2 linked regions of the Homo sapiens genome follow. Changing the gene in region 1 together with any one later gene gives a genetic interaction. Each region holds a gene or a part of one and is shown on either strand. Other genes may lie near its edges. The genes, in order: EZH1 and KEAP1.

What was found.
Region 2: changes in EZH1 (region 1) and KEAP1 together harm fitness more than expected from each alone (negative genetic interaction), as found in Homo sapiens cells (one large-scale study listed by BioGRID).

What each region holds. Positions count from the first base shown.
Region 1 is NC_000017.11:42,738,226-42,742,040, reverse strand, and holds part of EZH1 (histone-lysine N-methyltransferase EZH1), read left to right. Parts: intron 1-3,815.
Region 2 is NC_000019.10:10,496,659-10,500,473, reverse strand, and holds part of KEAP1 (kelch-like ECH-associated protein 1), read left to right. Parts: intron 1-393; 5' UTR 394-440; coding exon 441-1,079; intron 1,080-3,815. UniProt on the Homo sapiens protein: Substrate-specific adapter of a BCR (BTB-CUL3-RBX1) E3 ubiquitin ligase complex that regulates the response to oxidative stress by targeting NFE2L2/NRF2 for ubiquitination.

The sequences.
Region 1 (3,815 bases):
TGTTTCTTATATATTTGCCTTTGGATGATACCTTCAAACAACCAATTTAAGTCTGGACACTGTGGCTCATGCCTGTAATCCCAGTATTTTGGGAGGCCGAGGTGGGCGAATCACTTGAGTTCAGAAGTGTGAGACCAGCCTGGGCAACATGGCAAAACTCTGTCTCTACAAAAACATTACAAAAATTAGCCAGGCCTGGTGGTGTGGGCCTGTAGTCCCAACTACTCAGGAGGCTGAGTAGGGAGGATTGCTTGAGCCCAGGAGGCAGAGGTTGCAGTGAGCCGAGATCAAGCCACTGCATTCCAGCCTGGGCAACAGAGCAAGACCCTGTCTCAAAACAAAATAAGAAACCGATTCAAAATATTAATTTTGTCTATTTTTAATTCCTAGGGTCTGAAACCTGGCTTCATTACTCTGTAGGCAACAGTTCCTTCCCTTTGATTTGCTGTTTATATGAAACATGTAACAATTCATGTCATTAAGTATATCTTTTTCTGGTCTTAGATTAAGTTTAAAAAGTTTCACTTTGGGCCCCCCACGTTGTGGCTCACAGCTGTAATCCCAGCACTTTGGGAGCAGGCCGAGGGATTGATCACTTGAAGCCAGGAGTTTGGGACCAGCCTGTCCAACACGGTGAAACCCCGTTTCTACAATTAGCTGGGCGTGGGCATCCCACACCTGTCATCCCAGCTACTTGGGAGGCTGAGGAACGAGAATCCCTTGAACCTGGAAGGCGGAGGTTGCAGTGAGCTGAGATGGCACCACTGTACTCTAGCCTGGGCGACAAAGGGAGACCCTGTCTCAAAAACAGTTTCCACTTTGTTCACTATTTCTATTTTGTTCACTAGTAGCGTCCCAGAAAAGATTTGAGGTAGCAACACTAAAAACACACTAATTCCATTTCTACATAGAATAAACTAAAGAGAAAAGAGAAAACAATTTGTGGAGAAAAGTGAAGATAATTAGATAGGTTGGGATTGAGGGGAAGGGTTAAAGGTTAAAAAAAGAAAAATTGTGCTTCTCCATTCTGGAAAGTCCCCAGCTTTTTCTTTGTTTTGTTTTATGTCCAAACTGTGTACATATTGGATTCTTTCCTACTCCTTAGTCTATCAGTCAATCATCAGTTGAGACTTGAGTACACTACACCCTAAAGTCATGAGTTACTTAATGGGTAGTTGGAATTCAGTACCTTTAGTGTGTTTTATTCTCTAACTCACCTACCCGAATAATTTGATTCAAAATAGACTAAAAAGTCTTATTTTTATTGGATGATATGAGCAGGCACTAAATACAGTACAGTATTAAACTTTGGGCTGACACAGTACAGAACCAGTCAAGATAGGGCTCTAGCCTGTTAGGAGATTGCTTTTACTCTTCCAAGTCAGCGTTCTCACTGGGCACGGTGGCTCATGTCTGTAATCTCAACCCTTTGGGAGGCTGAGGAAGGGGGATTACTTCAAGTCAGGAGTTCAAGGCCAGCCTGGGAAACATAGCAAGATCTTGTAGGCTGGGCGTAGTGGCTCACGCCTGTAATCCCAGCACTTTGGGAGGCCGAAGCGGGTGGATCACAAGGTCAAGAGATCGAGATCATCCTGGCCAACATGGTGAAACCTGTCTCTACTGAAATGCAAAAATTAGCTGGGCGTGGTGGCTTGCACCTGTAGTCCCAGCTACGCGGGAGGCTGAGGCAGGAGAATCGCTTGAACCCGGGAGGCGGAGGTTGCAGTGAGCTGAGATTGCACCACTGCACTCCAGCCTGGCAACAGAGCAAGACTCCGTTTCAAAAAAAAAAAAAAAGATCTTGTCTCCACTGAAAATATAAAAAATTAGCCAGGCATGGTGGCATGTGCCCGTAGTCCCAGCTACTAGGGAGGCTGGGGCCAAAGGATCCCTTGAGCCTGGGAGGTCGAAGTGCAGTGAGCTATGATCATGCCTGGTCGGCAGAGTGGGACCCTTTCTCAAAAAACAAAATAAAATGAAATAAAATTAAACCAGAGTTATAAATCCTGTGAGCCAGCATTTTCCTTTGGGTCTCATAAAAACTAATCCTGTTTATGGTGAAACCCTGTCTCTACTGAAAACACAAAAAATTAGCTGGGCATGGTGGTGGGCACCTGTGATCCCAGGTACTCGGGAGGCTGAGGCAGGAGAATGGCGTGAACCTGGGGGATGGAGCTTGCAGTGAGCCAAGATCGCGCCACTGCACTCCAGCCTGGGCGACAGCGCGAGACTCTGTCTCAAAAAAAAAAAAACTAATCCTGTTTAGATTTTTGTTACCATTACCTCCAGTGCATACGATCTAATTTTTTTTTTGAGACAGAATTTCACTCTTGTTGCTCAGACTGGAGTGCAATGGCACGATCTCAGCTCATTGCAACCTCTGCCTCCTGGGTTCAAGCGATTCTCCTGCTTCAGCCTCCCGAGTAGCTGGGATTACAGGCATCCACCACCATGCCCGGCTAATTTTGTATTTTTAGTAGAGACGGGGTTTCTGCATGTTAGGCTGGTCTCGAACCCCTGTCCTCAGGTGATCCACTCGCCTTGGCCTCCCAAAGTGCTGGGATTACAGGTGTGAGCTACTGCACCCAGCTGATCTGATTCTCTTAATTAAGCAACACTAGGAAATACTAATGTTATAATTTTATTTTAAATTAGAATTCAGAGTCACAGGTTCCTGTTAGGAAGGTTCTTTCTGTGTGTAGTGCCCAGAAGCTCAAACTAATGACAGATGAAAATACCTCAGAGAAGTTGGAGGGTATAAATTAGAGATGTGCTTTATAGATCCTAACTGAGAGATCAGGCTGTGTACCTAGTCACAGAATTGATTTTAATTGAAATGTTGATGAAATTGGTGATCACCAGAATGACCCAAAGGTGTGTTACTAGAGCTCTTTGCAGGGATAGGTTCACCCCTATCATTCAGGTTTCAATTACACTATGAATCAAAAAAGGAATAGGATGAAATATTTAAAAATATAGGCCAGGGGCCAGGCGTGGTAGCTCACGCCTGTAATCCCAGCACTTTGGGAGGCCGAGGCAGGTGGATCACGAGGTCAGGAGATGGAGACCATCCTGGCCAACATGGTGAAACCCCGCCTCTACTAAAAATACAGAAATTAACCCGGCTTGGTGGCGAGCATAGTCCCAGCTACTCAGGGGGGGTGGAGGCAAGAGAATCGCTTGAACCCAGGAGGTGGAGATTGCAGTGAGCTGAGATAGCACCACTGCACTCCAGCCTGGGTGACAGAGTGAGACTCCTTCTCAAAAAAAAAAAAAAAAAAAAAATCTAGGCCAGGCCCGGTGGCTTACGCCTGTAATCCCAGCACTTTGGGAGGCCAAGGTGGGTGAATTACCTGAGGTTAGGAGTTCCAGACCAGCCTGGCCAAGATGGTGAAACCCTGTCTCTACTAAAAATACAAAAATTAGCTGGGGCAGAGGTTGCAGTGAGCTGTTATTGCACCAACGCACTCCAGCCTGGCAACAGAGTGAGACTCCATCTCAAAAAAAAATAAAAAAAATAGACTGGGCACGGTGGCTCACGTCTGTAATCCCAGCAGAGCGAGATTCCGTCTCAAAAAATAATAATAAATACAAATAATAAATACAAATAAATAAAATTAAAAAATAAAAATCTGTAGTGCCATCTGCCTCCAAAGGCTTACTTAGCCTTGCTGGTTAATAAAATTATTATTCAAGAGAAACTATCAAAGACACTGAATTTGCCCCTAAGACAAAGAAGCTGTTTCTGCAAAGGGACACCTTATGTAGATGAAAAAATTTAATAGTTTGGAACTTTTGTATTCTGATCTCAGTCT
Region 2 (3,815 bases), on another chromosome or scaffold:
TGGTGAGGCAAATGAAGGAATGAGCTCAACATGCTCTAGAAAGGGAAAGGCCGCCAGATTGCTGAAGCAGAGTGATCAAAGGGAAGAGGTGGCAGGGGCTAATTGCGTAGGGCTTTGCAGGCTGTTGAGGAGTTCAGTTTTACTAGGTACTGTGGGAGGCATTGGAGGATCCAGAGCAGGGGAGAGACATGACTTCATGTATGTTTTAAGATGGGCTCTTGGGCCAATCAGGTTGATCAGGTCGGGGAAGTTTGCAAGTTTGCAAATGGATTCTGCTTCACCTACTTTGCAGGAAAACTGACCTAGGAATTGCTTTATCTTGCAAAACGAGGCCCGGCAGGTGCTGGCCCAGTCCCAACCCCTGCCCTCTGCCCTGTGCTCTCTCCCCTCCAGGTCCCTGAGTGCCAGAGGTGGTGGTGTTGCTTATCTTCTGGAACCCCATGCAGCCAGATCCCAGGCCTAGCGGGGCTGGGGCCTGCTGCCGATTCCTGCCCCTGCAGTCACAGTGCCCTGAGGGGGCAGGGGACGCGGTGATGTACGCCTCCACTGAGTGCAAGGCGGAGGTGACGCCCTCCCAGCATGGCAACCGCACCTTCAGCTACACCCTGGAGGATCATACCAAGCAGGCCTTTGGCATCATGAACGAGCTGCGGCTCAGCCAGCAGCTGTGTGACGTCACACTGCAGGTCAAGTACCAGGATGCACCGGCCGCCCAGTTCATGGCCCACAAGGTGGTGCTGGCCTCATCCAGCCCTGTCTTCAAGGCCATGTTCACCAACGGGCTGCGGGAGCAGGGCATGGAGGTGGTGTCCATTGAGGGTATCCACCCCAAGGTCATGGAGCGCCTCATTGAATTCGCCTACACGGCCTCCATCTCCATGGGCGAGAAGTGTGTCCTCCACGTCATGAACGGTGCTGTCATGTACCAGATCGACAGCGTTGTCCGTGCCTGCAGTGACTTCCTGGTGCAGCAGCTGGACCCCAGCAATGCCATCGGCATCGCCAACTTCGCTGAGCAGATTGGCTGTGTGGAGTTGCACCAGCGTGCCCGGGAGTACATCTACATGCATTTTGGGGAGGTGAGCGGGGAAGTGGGGCTGGGGGCAGTGTCAGGAGAAGGACCAGGGATGGACGAGTGCTCATCACTGTCTCCCCTTGAGATGTCAAGGCAGGAAACTGGAGAAAAAGGAGGTTCTGGGCTGGGTATGGTGGTGTAGTCTCCACAGTTTGAGGGGCTGAGGCGGGGGGATTGCTTCAGGCCAAGAGTTCAAGACCAGCCCAGGCAACATAATGACACCCTGTCTCTAAACAAACAAACACACAAACAAAAAACAACTGGGGCCGGGCGTGGTGGCTCATGCCTGTAATCCCAACACTTTGGGAGGCCGAGGCAGGTGGATCACCTGAGGTAAGGAGTTCAAGACCAGCCTGGCCCACATAGCTAAAACCCATCTCTACTAAAAATATAAAAATTAGCCAGGCCTGGTGGCGGGCGCCTGTAGTCCCAGCTGCTCAGGAGGCTGAGGCAGGAGAATCGCTTGAACCAAGAGGTGGAGGTTGCAGTGAGTGGAGATCGAGCCACTGCACTCCAGCTTGCGCAACAGAGCAAGACTCAGTTTCAAAAAAAAAAAAAATTAAAAAACAACTGGGGTTCTGAGTTCCTTGTCTACACATGTGGGGAGACTGGTGAACAGCTGGGGAAGGTGAGGTCTTCATATGTCTCTGGGCTCCCTGGTTTCTCTGGGGTCAAAGTGGGGCAGAGTGCAGTGAACAGCAGCCAAATCCTAGGGTAGCCCAGCCTTTCGGGCAGTCAGCAAATGTTTATTGGACACCCGTGACAGGCTGCAAGCTGTAAGTCTGAACCTTAGTCATGTTTTCTTTGGTCCACACAATGTCCTTATACTGTTTTTGGTTTCGTTTTCACATTTCTCAGTGAAGGAAATTATCTATAGAAATTGACAAGAGAGGGCAGGGCCCAGTGGCTCACGCCTGTAATCCCAGCACTTTGGGAGGCTGAGGCGGGTGGCTCACCTGAGGTCAGGAGTTTGAGACCAGCCTGACCAATATGGTGAAACCCCATCTCTAATAAAAATACAAAAAAAGAAAACTAGCCGGGTGTAGTGGCATGTGACTATAGTCCCTGCTACTCGAGAGGCTGAGACAGGAGAATCGCTTGAACCGGGGAGGTGGAGGTTGCAGTGAGCCGAGATCGCACCATTGCACTCCAGCCTGGGCGACAGAGCAAGACTCTGTCTCAAAAAAAAAAAAAAAAAAGCCTGGGCGCGGTGGCTCATGCCTATAATCCCAGCACTTTGGAAGGCCAAGGTGGGCAGATCACCTGCGGTCGGGAGTTCAAGACCAGCCTGACCAACATGGAGAAACCACGTCTCTATTAAAAATGCAAAATTAGCCTGGCATGGTGGCTCATGCTTGTAATCCCAGCTACTCAGGAGGCTGAGGCAGGAGAATCGCTTGAACCCGGGAGGCGGAGGTTGCAGTGAGCTGAGATTGCGCCATTGCACTCCAGCCTGGGCAATAAGAGCGAAACTCTGTCTCAAAAAAAAAAGAAAAAGTTTTTGAAGAGATGAGGTCTTGCTCTGTCCCCAGGCTGGAATACAGTGGTGCCATCATAGCTCACTGTAGCCTCCAACTCTTGGGCTCAAGGAGGCCTCCTATCTCAGCCTCCTGAGTAGCTGGGACTATAGGTATGCAGCACCACGCATGGCTAATTTTTTAGTTTTTAAATTTTTTTGTAGAGACAGGGTCTTGCTATGTTGCTGAGACTGGTCTCGAACCTCCTGGCTTTGAACAATCCTCTGGCTTTGGCCTCCCGTAGTGTTGGGATTACAGGTATGAAGCACCATACCAACACCAGGCCAAGAAGTGTTTATTGAGCACTTGCTGTGGGCCAGCCCCTGTTCTAAGTGATTTATGTCCTTTGCATCATTGACTGTTCCCAACTGTCCTATGAGGCAGTACTACCCTTCAGCCTAGGCAAGCAGGGCAGTGCCCCAGGCCCTAAGCCTTCGGGAGTCCCATGTCTTGGTGTTCCTTCCTGGAAATTTTCTAAGTCCCCCACTGGCTGGTACCAGCTGGGATGGATGTTACACTGATCTCTATTTCTCTCCTTCAGGGATAGATTCTTTCCTACCCTCTATGTTACATGTGGGGTTGATCAGACGCCCCAGGGTTCTCTGGCGTTAGTCCTAGGGCCTGCAGCTTCTAGGAAAGTGGTCTATACAGTAGGAGAAACATATACAGTGTTTCTTTCTTGTGTTTGTATGAACATGGGGTACTAGATTAAAACTGATTACATAGACGAGTGCCTGACAACTTTTTTTTTTTTTTTTGAGACGGAGTCTCACTCTGTCACCCAGGCTGGCATGCAGTGGCACTGTATCGGCTCACTGCAACCTCCATCTCCTGGGTTCAAGCAATTCTCCTGCCTCAGCCTCCCAAGTAGCTGGGATTACAGGTGCCTACCACTATGCCCAGCTAATTTTTAAAAAATATTTTTAGTACAGATGGGGTTTCACCATGTTGGCCAGGCTGGTCTCGAACCCCTGAGCTCAGGTGATCTGCCTGCCTTGGCCTCCCTAACTGTGCTGGGATTACAGGCATGAGACACTGCGCCCACGCCCGCCCCCCACCGCCCAGTCCTTTTTTGTTTTTGAGACTGAGTCTGGCTCTATCGCCCAGGCTGAAGTGCAGTGGCAAGATTTCGGCTCACTGCAAGCCTCCATGTCCTGGGTTCAAGCGATTCTCATGCCTCAGCCTCCGAAGTAGCTGGGATTACAGGGGTGCACCACCACGCT